2 linked regions of the Homo sapiens genome follow. The protein of the gene in region 1 purifies or fractionates together with the protein of each later gene. This does not show direct contact. Each region holds a gene or a part of one and is shown on either strand. Other genes may lie near its edges. The genes, in order: SON and CPSF6.

What was found.
Region 2: the proteins of SON (region 1) and CPSF6 purify together in Homo sapiens (affinity purification with mass spectrometry; 2 studies listed by BioGRID and IntAct, with this or other methods). This does not show direct contact.

What each region holds. Positions count from the first base shown.
Region 1 is NC_000021.9:33,573,846-33,578,093, forward strand, and holds the end of SON (protein SON), read left to right. Parts: intron 1-1,750; coding exon 1,751-1,822; intron 1,823-1,932; coding exon 1,933-2,048; intron 2,049-2,519; coding exon 2,520-2,579; 3' UTR 2,580-3,636; downstream 3,637-4,248. UniProt on the Homo sapiens protein: RNA-binding protein that acts as a mRNA splicing cofactor by promoting efficient splicing of transcripts that possess weak splice sites.
Region 2 is NC_000012.12:69,242,430-69,249,733, forward strand, and holds part of CPSF6 (cleavage and polyadenylation specificity factor subunit 6), read left to right. Parts: intron 1-7,304. UniProt on the Homo sapiens protein: Component of the cleavage factor Im (CFIm) complex that functions as an activator of the pre-mRNA 3'-end cleavage and polyadenylation processing required for the maturation of pre-mRNA into functional mRNAs.

The sequences.
Region 1 (4,248 bases):
TCTTCATTATTTCCTATTACAATACTGGTTTAGTCTAGATTTCATAAACCCTGTTTGCTTTTTTCTTCCAAGCTCAGTAGTTAAGTTGGGTTAGAGTATAGTAGACCAGCTGCTGACAATAATGTTACTTCTTCCTGTTGCCTTGTGTTAAGGCATCTTGGAACTGTTAGCATTGACTGTATTTTCCTTTTACCTTCAGATACCTGGGCAGGGCAGCACTGTGTCTTCTATGTAGCTTGTATGTAGTTGCTAAGTATTTAATCATTCCCACAGATGATAGCTAATTGGCGTCTTTTAAATAACTTCTTCCCTTGGAATAATGTAAGTGGAATCATGAGAGGCTTGCCAGCTCAGTATGATTTTTGTATAGCTTGTTTAAACCTCATTTATAAAAGCTGACAAATGTAAAACTGGGATTTATTTTCATCTTTGTAATCAAACAGTAAGTTGAAGCTAACTTCAATAGTTAAACTGTCTTAATGAATTTGGAAATGAACTAGCTCTGCACCAAATACTTTGATGTTAAGTATTGTACAATTTCAGGAAGCATTGTCCTTGGAATTGTGGGACATGGCCTGACTGTAAGCTCTCAGAGAACCACAGATTTCCCAGGATAGGTTTAGAAAAGCTTATATTAGCATGGAATTATTTAGCAAAGGTTGAAAAATTTCCTGTAACATACAGGATGAGCATCCCACATCTGGAAACCTGAAATGCTTTAAAACAGAAAACTTTTTGAATACTGATATGATGCTCAAAGGAAATACTCATTGGTGCATTTTGGATTTCAGCCTCTTCAGATTTGGGATGCTTGACCGCTAAATACAATGCAAATATTTGAAAACCTGGAATCAACCGACACACTTCTGGTCCCAAGCATTTTGGATAAGGAATACTCAACCTGTATATGAATTGGGAAAGCAGTGTTTGGGTTTAGCAATGTAGCTAATCCCCTTTGTAATAAGTCTATGGAGAGAGAGGTTATGTAGAAAGGTTATGTTCATATTTTGAGAACATCTCCCATTTGTTAGGAAGGGAGAGGAGAGTTTGCTAGGAAAAAAGGGACCTATTTTATTTGGAGACAACCGTTTTCACCTTTTTGGTGGCTTAAAATCCTAACCTTTTTTGGAAGAGTCTTAACTGAAGCTTATTTTTTTAAGAGACAGTAAATCTGCAGAAATCACTTGGCAATAAGCTATTTTTTTTCTTTTTTTGAGATGGAGTTTTGCTCGTTGCCCAGGCTGTCAGTGGCACGATCTTTACTCACTGCAACCTTCGCTTCCAGGTTCAAGCGATTCTCCTGCCCCAGCCTCCCGAGTAGCTGGGATTACAGGCGCGCACCACCACGCCCGGCTAATTTTTGTTTCTTTAGTAGAGACGGGGTTTCACCATGTTGGCCAGGCTGGTCTCAGACTCTTGACCTCAGGAGATCCACCCGCCTCGGCCTCCCAAAGTGCTGGGATTACAGGCATGAGCCACTGTGCCTGGCCATACTTAACTTTTTGTTTTCTGTTTACATTTGGTATTTATTACAATTTCTCATACCAAGATCTATGAATATTAAATATAAATTTATATGCTGAAAAACAGTAAAAGAGAAGAAAGAGAAGATTGATAGAGAAATCGAGTGTACTAGGAATCTGCTGATTTTATTTGAAGGCATACATTTTGAGGTTCAGACTCCTACAGAGGGATCTTTGTTTTAAAGTGGTGCTTTGAAATTTATTTAGTGAACAATTTTTTTTTAAAGGTCTTGTTGCAGTAGGAGAAAGAGCACAAAAGAGGTCTGGGAACTTCTCTGCTGCAATGAAAGATCTGTCAGGTGAGAGCACGTTTTTGAATTTCCTCTTACCCTAATCCCACCTTGAATTCATTATTTGTTGCAGAAGTTGGTGGAAATAATTTAAAACTGGGTATTTCTCCCCCCTGCAGGCAAACATCCTGTGTCTGCTTTGATGGAGATCTGTAATAAAAGAAGGTGGCAACCACCTGAATTTCTATTGGTCCATGATAGTGGCCCTGATCATCGCAAACATTTTCTCTTTAGGGTAAATATGAATTTCTGCATTAATTATATATATTTATTAATGTGATGACTTAGAGGGTGAGGGGTAAACATGATCACAGGATTAAGATTCTGTTCATGGGTGGGGGGTTTGTATTTGTAGTTAAGTGGTGGGGTTTTTAAACACTGAAGGGTGCTTTAATACGACTTGTCAATGTCCTATTTTTTAAAAAATTGGAAAAGGGTAAAATATAGTATACAATTGTTATTTTCTAGTTGAATGTGGGGAATTAATTTAATACTTTTGTCAGTCTTTTTCTCAATTTGGAGACCTGCTCTAATTTGCAGTCCCTTTCCCAAATGATTTGGTTCTTCGGGTTGAGATTATAATTTGACTTACATAGTATGGGTTTTATATTTTTGTAAATTATTTTTCTAGCATTTAGTGAAAAAATACAAAGCTAATAGATATTAAAGTTTGATGCTGTTCTTATTGTATGTTTTTCTTGAATAGGTATTGAGAAATGGAGCCCTTACCAGACCCAATTGTATGTTTTTCTTGAATAGGTATTGATAAATGGAAGCGCTTACCAGCCCAGCTTTGCCAGCCCTAATAAGAAGCATGCTAAAGCCACAGCAGCTACTGTGGTTCTTCAAGCAATGGGCCTTGTACCAAAGGACCTCATGGCTAATGCCACTTGCTTCAGGAGTGCCTCACGTAGATAGATTGAGGTTTTATAATAATCATTTCAGAATTTTACTCTGCATCACAATGTATTTCCTCTTTAATGTTGTAAATATTTGGCAATTTAAGACATTGTGTAAAAAGCAATCTGTAAAAACATCTCCAGGCTTTGATTTTTGTACCATGGAAATTGTATTTAACCATACAGGGTTTTGGTATGTTTATATTGTTTACCTTAGTGATGTATTTGTTTAAGTGGCTAACATCCAAACGACTGTTTGAAGGCATCAGAGTAATCTTCAGTGTGGAATGTTAAATAACGCTTTTATACTGTATTTTGTACTATGATGTAACTCCCCTTCCTTATGGCTAGGCTACTGTAACACTTGCCTGTAATCAGTGAAGGGCTGTGCACCTTGTACTATTTCACAATGGGTTCTGCTGGACAGATAATGGGCCAGTGTTATTGAGGTGATCAAGATCTGTTCCACAGGGCTAATGCCACCATCTCCCCTCAAAATTTTGTAGAGGTTCTAAAAAGAAAGTGGTATGTTGTGTGATGATCAGCACTAAGTCCTGCATTCCTGTTAAAGCCACTTGGGTCATAAGAAGGGAGTAAAAAATGAAGTCTGACTAGAATTCTATTGCAGAGGCCAGTACATTTAGTATGGCATTGAGTTGTGATATAGTTTTACTTTGATGTGCATTTTGAATTTCAGCTACACCTAGATAGACGTAAAATGATAATTAAAATGCTGTAACCAACTTATCTAATAAAATTGGCAACCAGCCACTATTTTGTTGACTATGAGAAAGTTAAAAGTTTATGTTAATTTTTAGGGTCTGATAGAATATTTCATGTGTATTACAGTGGTATTCATATGCTATGTCTCTAAACTTTATTTTCAAAAGCTTAAGGCCCAAATACAAACTTCTCTGGAATAAACGTGGTGTTTTATTTTCTGGGTTATAAAGTGAACAAATACTTAGATACTATTATTTCTTTACCCAATGCTTTTGATTTTTAAGCACTTTTATTTTAAAAATGTGAATTATACAGTCCCCCCCTACACACACACACACACACACACACACACACACACACACACACACACACACACACACACACACACACACACACACACACACACACACACACACACACACCCCTATAAGCACATTAAATACTACTTTGCCGTGACAGCTCAGTGTACTTCACAATTCTTAACACTATTCTATGTGGAATACAAAATGCCTTTTTATCTGAATTAACATGCATTTAAAAAGTTTTAGTATATGTGAAAATAAAGGAATTATAAATCAGTAGGAAAGATATTAAGGTAGAAGCATCACCAATCAACTAGCTCAGTAGATGTTGTCTGTATTTATTTTCTACCTTTATGAAACAAGAACCTGCTAACAGGTAAATCGTAAAGTAACATATTTTTGCCCTGATGCCATTAGTCACAATGCCATGGGGTAACTGCTATGTGATTTCCCATTTGCAAGGAAGCATATTAATTCAGTTTCTGCTCAATATACAATTAGGTTGTAGGGA
Region 2 (7,304 bases), on another chromosome or scaffold:
ATTCAACAGTCTTAGCAGAAACTAATTTGGGGATAGATTGAGAATAATAAATTAGTGAAGCTCTAATAGAGTGCCTTTCTTCACCAGGTGAACTTAAGAATGGAGAATGAAGGGGGGAGGAGGCACAAGGGACTGGCTACTCCTTATGGGTTCTCTTTAGTTCTTAGAGGTCTTTGGATGTCACCAAGCTGAGAACAGCTGGAAGGGGAATTTGAACATCTTCCAAACCTCTCTATTACTTGAAGTTGAGAAGAAAGTGATTCTGTCTCACAGTAGCATATCAATTCAGTTTAAACTGCATTTATACTCAAGTGTAGTAATTACTAGCCCAATATTTAGTAATTGTAGATTTTAAAATTCTGGCCAAAACTAAATAATTTAAAAGTTGAATTGTTTAGCGCGAGTGTGGTGGCTCATGCCTGTAATCCCAGCACTTTGGGAGGCCAAGGTGGGCAGATCGCTTGAGGTCAGGAGTTGCAGACCAGCCTGGCCAACATGGTGAAACCCCATCTCTATCAAAATACAAAAATTGGCCGAGTATGGTGGTGCCTGCCTGTAATCCCAGCTAATCAGTAAGCTAAGCAGGAGAATCGCTTGAACCTGGGAGGCAGAGGTTGCAGTGAGCCAAGATCGGGCCACTGCACTCCAGCAAGACCCTGTCTCAAAAAAAAAAGATTGAATTGTTCAAAATACATTTGTTGAGTGTCTGTTATGTGCCAACAACGAGGGATACAAAGTTTAGGTAGTCTCTACCCTTAGAGTACACTGTAGGGGAGCTGAGAGATACCTACATACAGTAGTGCACACGTATCCACAGTTCCACTTTCTGTGGTTTCAGTTACCCGTGGTTCTGAGGTCTGAAAATATTACATACAATAAGGTAGTTTGAGAGATACTATATTTAGCTAACTTTTATGACAGTAAACTGTTCTACAATCATGTGTCGCTTCACGATGGCGGTATGTTCTGAGAAGTCCATCTTAGGTGCTTTTGTCATTTGTGATCATAGAGTGCTTTTGCATTTCAAACCTGGAAGGTACAGCCTACTACACATGTAGGCTATATGGTGTAGCCTGTTGCTCCTAGGCTACAAACTTGTACAACATATTACTGTACTGAATACTGTAGGCAGTTGTAACACAGTGGTATTTGTGTATCTAATATATCTAAACAGAAAAGGTAAGTGAAAATCTTGATATAAAAGATAAAAAGTGGCACACTTGTGTAGGGCACTCATGAAAGGAACCTGCATGATTGGAAGTTGCTCTGGGAGAGTCAGCAAGTGAGTGGTGGGTGAATGTGAAGATCTGGGACATGCTGCTGTAGACTTCATAAACACTGTACAGTACACTCAGGCTACACTAAATTTATTTAAACTTTTTTCTTCAATAATACATGAGCTTACTGTAATGTTTTCACTTGATTGATTATTTTCTCACTGTCATCCAGTCTGGAGTGCGGTGGTGCAGTTGTGGCTCACTGCAGCCTTTATCTCCCAGGCTCAAGCAGTCCTCCTGTCTTAGTCTCCAGAGCAGCTGAGACTACAGGCATGTGCCACCATGCCTGGCTAATTTCAAATTTTTTTTGTAGGGATGAGGTCCCAGCTAGTCTCCAGCTCCTGGGCTCAAGCTGTCTTCTTGCTTTGACCTACCAGTGTTGGGATTACAGGCGTGAGCCACTGTGACTGGCCCGTTTTTACTTTATAAATTTGGACTCTTCAATAATAACAGTTTAAAATACAAACACATTGTGTAACTATATAAAATATTTTCTTTATATCCTTATACTGTAAACTTACTTCTTTTTTTTGTTTTGTTTTGTTTTGAGATGGAGTCTCGCTTTGTCACCCAGGCTGAAGTGCAGTGGCGCGATCTTGGCTCACCGCAACCTCTGCCTCCTGGGTTCAAGCAGTTCTCCTGCCTCAGCTGGGATTACAGGCACTCACCACCATGCCTGCCTAATTATTGTATTTTTAGTAAGAGACGAGGTTTCACATGTTGGCCAGGCTGGTCTCGAACTCGTGACCTCAAGTGATCCTCTTGCCTTGGCTTCCCAAAGCGCTGGGATTACAGGCATGAGTCACCACACTGGGCCTAAACTTTTTTCTATTAAATTTTTTTTTTTAACTTTTAAAATTAATTTTATTTTAGAAGAGACAAGGTCTTACTGTGTTGCACAGGTCTCAAACTCCTGGCCTCATGTGATCCTCTTGCCTCAGCCTCCCAAAGGAGGCTGGAATTACAGGCATGAACGACTGAACCTGGTCTTTTTTTTTTTAAGCTTTTTTTAAAAACTAAGATATACACACATTAACCTAGGCCTGCACAGGGTCAGGATTATCAATATCACTGTCTTCCATCTCTGCATCTTGTCCCACTGGAAAGGTCTTCAGGGGCAGTATGATGCATGGGCTGTCATCTCCTAGGATAACTGCCTTCTTCTGTAATACGTGGTGAAGGACTGACTTGCCTGAGGCTGTTTTACAGTTAACTTTTTGAAGTAGGAAGAGTACACTCTAACATAATGATTAAAAGTATGGTATAGTTGGCCTTGGTGTGGTGGTTCACACCTGTAATCCCAGTGCTTTGAGAGCCTGAGGCGGCAGATTGCTTGAGGCCAGGAGTTCGAGACCAGCTTGGCCAACATGTCGAAACTCCGTCTCTATTTAAAAAAAAAAAAAAAAAAGTGTAAAAACAAAAAAGTATAGTATAATAAATACATAAACCAGTAACACAGTCGCTTATTGTCAAGTATTGTGTACTGTACATAATTGTATGTGCTATTCTTTTATATGACTGAGAGCACAGTAGGTTTGTTCACACCAGCATTACGAGCCCAAACGTGAGGAATGCATTGGGCTAAGATCGCTAAACAATAGTAATTTTTCAGCTCCATTATAATCTGACCACCTGGACCAAAACATTGTCATGCATGACTAAATTGTTCTCTTTTATTAGTTATTTTTTACAGTGCCTACTTTATAAATTAAACTTTATCGTAGGTATATATAAAGAAAAACATAGTATATTTAGGGTTCCTTGCTTTCCGTGGCTTTAGGCATCCACTGGGGGTCTTGGAACATATCCCTCTCAGATAAGAGGGGACTACTATAATTATAGCACACTGACAGGTCCTATATTGTAGTTACCATTCTTTTATGTTTTATGTGTAAAGTTTTGTTGATCTGGAGAGGAAAGTCAAAAAAATTCTGTGAACTTTAGGGAAACTTACACTGCTTGCATTGAAGTAGTATGTTTTGTTGCTTGTTTGGGAGTCAGAAACTCTTAATGTGGAATTTAGTTTCTGCTCTGTCAGGCCATCACCGATAGCACAAATTTAGTAATCTGACCACCCAGCTTTAAAATGGAAGTGTAGGCCAGGTGCGGTGGCTCATGCCTATAATTCCAGCAGTTTGGGAGGCTGAAGTAGGCGGATCACTTGAGGTCAGGAGTTTGAGACCTGCCTGGCCAACATGGCGAAACCCCTGTCTCTACTAAAAATACAAAATTTAGCCAGGTATGATAGTGCACACCTGTAATTCCAGCTACTTCAGAGGCTGAGGCAGGAGAATTGCTTGAACCTGGGGGGCAGAGGCTGCAGTGAGCTGAGATCAGGCCACTGTACTCCAGCCTGAGTGACAGAACGAGACTTTGTCACACACAAAAATAGATTAATTACTTTTAAAAGAATGGAGGTGTATAGAGGCAGTAGTTGGAACAAAGAATTCACTTAGGAGTTACGGACCTGGACATCCGATAAGTCAGTTTTTATGTCATGAATCATTTTGCTTTACGTTCAGTCATTATGTATGTATTCTAGCCAATTGTTGAGCCAATTAATGAAAATAAATTTCTTGGACAAATATCAGAGAAACATTGTTTATGATTTATTTATGTTTACTAGAAAACCATCTGAAATAAAGCTGTCAGGTTGAGAATGAGCTAGGTAGAATTGATTCAGAAAAATGGATAGAAATGTTCAGGGAAGCTAGAACTCTTCTCTATTTTGTTATTTATGGGTGCAGTTAATTTAGTTGCCTGTGAATTGTCCACTATGGTTTATGTGGCATATTTTTAGTACCAAATTCCTTACCATTATATAAGGAAGGGATTTTTACAGGGATTACTAGCCAGTTTTAATAACTACTGAGAACATAATTAGATAAAACCAGAAAATGATATATTTTCTTTAAAAATGTATGCATTAGGTTATCTGCTATTGGATTTTGCATACTAGTATTTCTTTTCCGAGGTATAGGATATATTTTGTAAATGCAAAATGTAACTTCCCCCCTTCATATATTTCTCTAAATGGAAATAATTTAAAATAGGCTTTGAAACAAGTGGCCTTTGCTGTGCATTTACTGATAGTATCATATAATGCACGAATTTTGTATGTATTTATGTATTTTTATGGTAGAGATGGGATCTTCCTAAGTTGCCCAGGCTGGTCTTAGACTCCTGGGCTCAAGGGATCCTCTTGCCTTGGCCTCCCAAAGTGGTGGGATTAACAGGCATGAACCACCATGCCTAGCCTCGAATGATATTACTGTAATTTTAGAACCATCAAAAAAATATCAGGCCTGTCAGGGAGAATGATGAATATTTTGACAGCCAACAAGTTCATCCCAATAGTGGTATACAGTATGTATCGTATATCTGTGATATTAAAATTGTAAGAGGGGTAATTAGGGAAAAAATGTCTAAAAGTAACTTCTTGAAGGGAGGGAGGAGACAGGGATAATGAAAAGGTTGAGAAGCCATACTTTAAGGGAACTAATAGGATTTTGGTCATTTTGCCATCCATTTTCTCTGGCTTGGCAACAGATATTTGTATATCATGTGGAGCATAATCTTGTTGTGTAAAATGTTGAGAGAATACCTTGTCTAAAGAATGATTGTAGTGATTTAGAATGGTAGGGAATGAAAAAAATTAGTGAGTTTTTTTTTTTTTTAAACAAACCCTAAGAGCTGTTGTTTATTCCAAGCTTTATGTAACATAGCTGGCTAGCTACTATGAACAGCAGATAAGATTGGGCAACATTTGGTATCAAAGATAATTAGAGGAATGATGTTGATATTTTCTTGTTTTTTGAATGCCATTAAAATTAAAAGTAATAATTGAAAAGACCCTTCATGTAATAAAAAATGATACCGTGAAATATTTCTTTGACAAACTGGAAACCTTTTTTTTAGTCTGTTCAGTAGGCTCACAGAGCTTTATTTATATATGACCTGTGATATACATTTTGCATAATTTCTCATGCAAACATCATGCATATTTTCTCACTTTATGAAGTAAGAACAAAGTTCAGTATGTTCTGTATTTTTTTTTACGCTGGAGGATTGATGTGATATGAAGCTGATTAAAAGGAAGGTTACTGATAACTACAAAAGAGTGTGCTTTGAGTTTCATTTTTAGTAATGGCAGCAAATGTATTCAGATTCATTATGTTTTTTCACAAAGTTTAAATGTATACCATTGGGGCTAAGTGTACAGGCTGTGGCCTTGGAACAGAGAGAAGCTAACTAGTCCACATGGAGATCAAACCCCAGGACCATGGTCTTAATTAGGATCGTACTACAACCACTTGGAAGCAGTACAACTACCAGACAAAATGGCTGATCCTAAATATTGGTAGAATCATATCAATGTGGAAAATTGGTTTGTGTCAACATAGGAATTCATGGATGGACAAAAATAGTAAGTGATTGTGATATACCAGGTTAGTGTAGCTGCAATTATGCTTGTAAATTTTTTGTCTACTTATGTAAACATTTTCACAGGTTTGTAGCTAATAGAAGAAAACAAAGAATCTGTTCACCTATTTATGTAAGTGAAAGTGTAAATTTAAAAATACATTTAGTCCTGCTGTTAATAACCCTTCCATTCTTTTTTACTTTCCCTCAGACCATATATTGTGATTATAGTTTCTGCTGAGGAGGATGGAAACTCAACTCCCTTTGAATAATATTAGTAATTCTACTTGATGTTCAGAACCGGATTGCAAGAGAGTTTAAAGTGCCCAACACCCCTTGTGGGAAACTTTTTAGTATCTTAAGTGCATGGAACTACTGCTGCAGCCACACCGCCTGAAGCTTCAGCCACACTGAAACTTCATAACAAAACTTACCCTCTTTTTTCCTAATTTCTGTGGTCATTGCAATTTGAGCATGTTACTTTGTTTAACAAAAACTCATTTCTTAAAGATTATTTTAGTATTGCTGTACAAACAGAATAAAATTATGGCATTATTCAGTGACTTGTGGTCTTAGTTTCTGCCCTTTGTTAAATTTAGCTTTGTTCTCTGATTTAACCTTGAGATCCCAGACCCCTTATTAAATAAGTCTTATAGACATTCTACCTCGTAACAAGTAAAATTGGTATGTAAAGATTCTGTAACTAGTAAATTGGATAAGTCATTAATTACATAAACGATTACCTGATGATTACTTGAGGTCCCTTTATTTAGGAATATAAATGATATTTCCCCTACTAGGCTTTTTTCTTTTTCTTTTAAAAAGATCTTATTCTCGGCCGGGTGTGGTGGCTCACACCTGTAATCCCAGCACTTTGGGAGGCCGAGGCGGGCGGATCACGAGGTCAGGAGATCAAGACCATCCTGGCTAACCCATCCTGCCTAACACGGTGAAACCCCATCTCTACAAAAAATACAAGAAATTAGCTGGGCAAGGTAGCGGGCGCCTGTAGTCCCAGCTACTCGGGGGGGGGGGGGGGGGCTGAGGCAGGAGAATGGCGTGAACCCAGGAGGCGGAGCTTGCAGTGAGCCGAGATTGCGCCACTGCACTCCAGCCTGGGCGACAGAGCAAGACTCCGTCTCAAAAAAATAAATAAATAAAAATTAAAATTAAAAAAATACAAAATAAATAAAAGATCTTATTCTGGCTCTCCTTTAAATAGCAAAACAGTAGCCTGGGCCCATAATATCTTGTTGCTCTGTTTACCATCATATAACAAATGCTTTTCTCTGGGTCATTCTATCCATTTAGGGACTATTTTGGCTAATAGTCCCTAAAACCATTAGCTCCTCCATATGTGCCATTTGTATAATTCTTTAGTAAATTGTATTAATGGGAGAATCTGTAAGTTACGTCTGAACTTTCAGGTTGTCTTATAATTGTCTTTTTCCTTATGTCAGATGTTCTATGTCATAAGAATAAAATGGTTCACACCAATACAAGTACTTAGTTGTGGAAAGGGAGAGTAGAAGATAAAAATGGAGATTTTCCTGTGCTACAGGCTTAGTCAAGCTTATGGTCTATTTAATGGTTATCAAAGGCAAT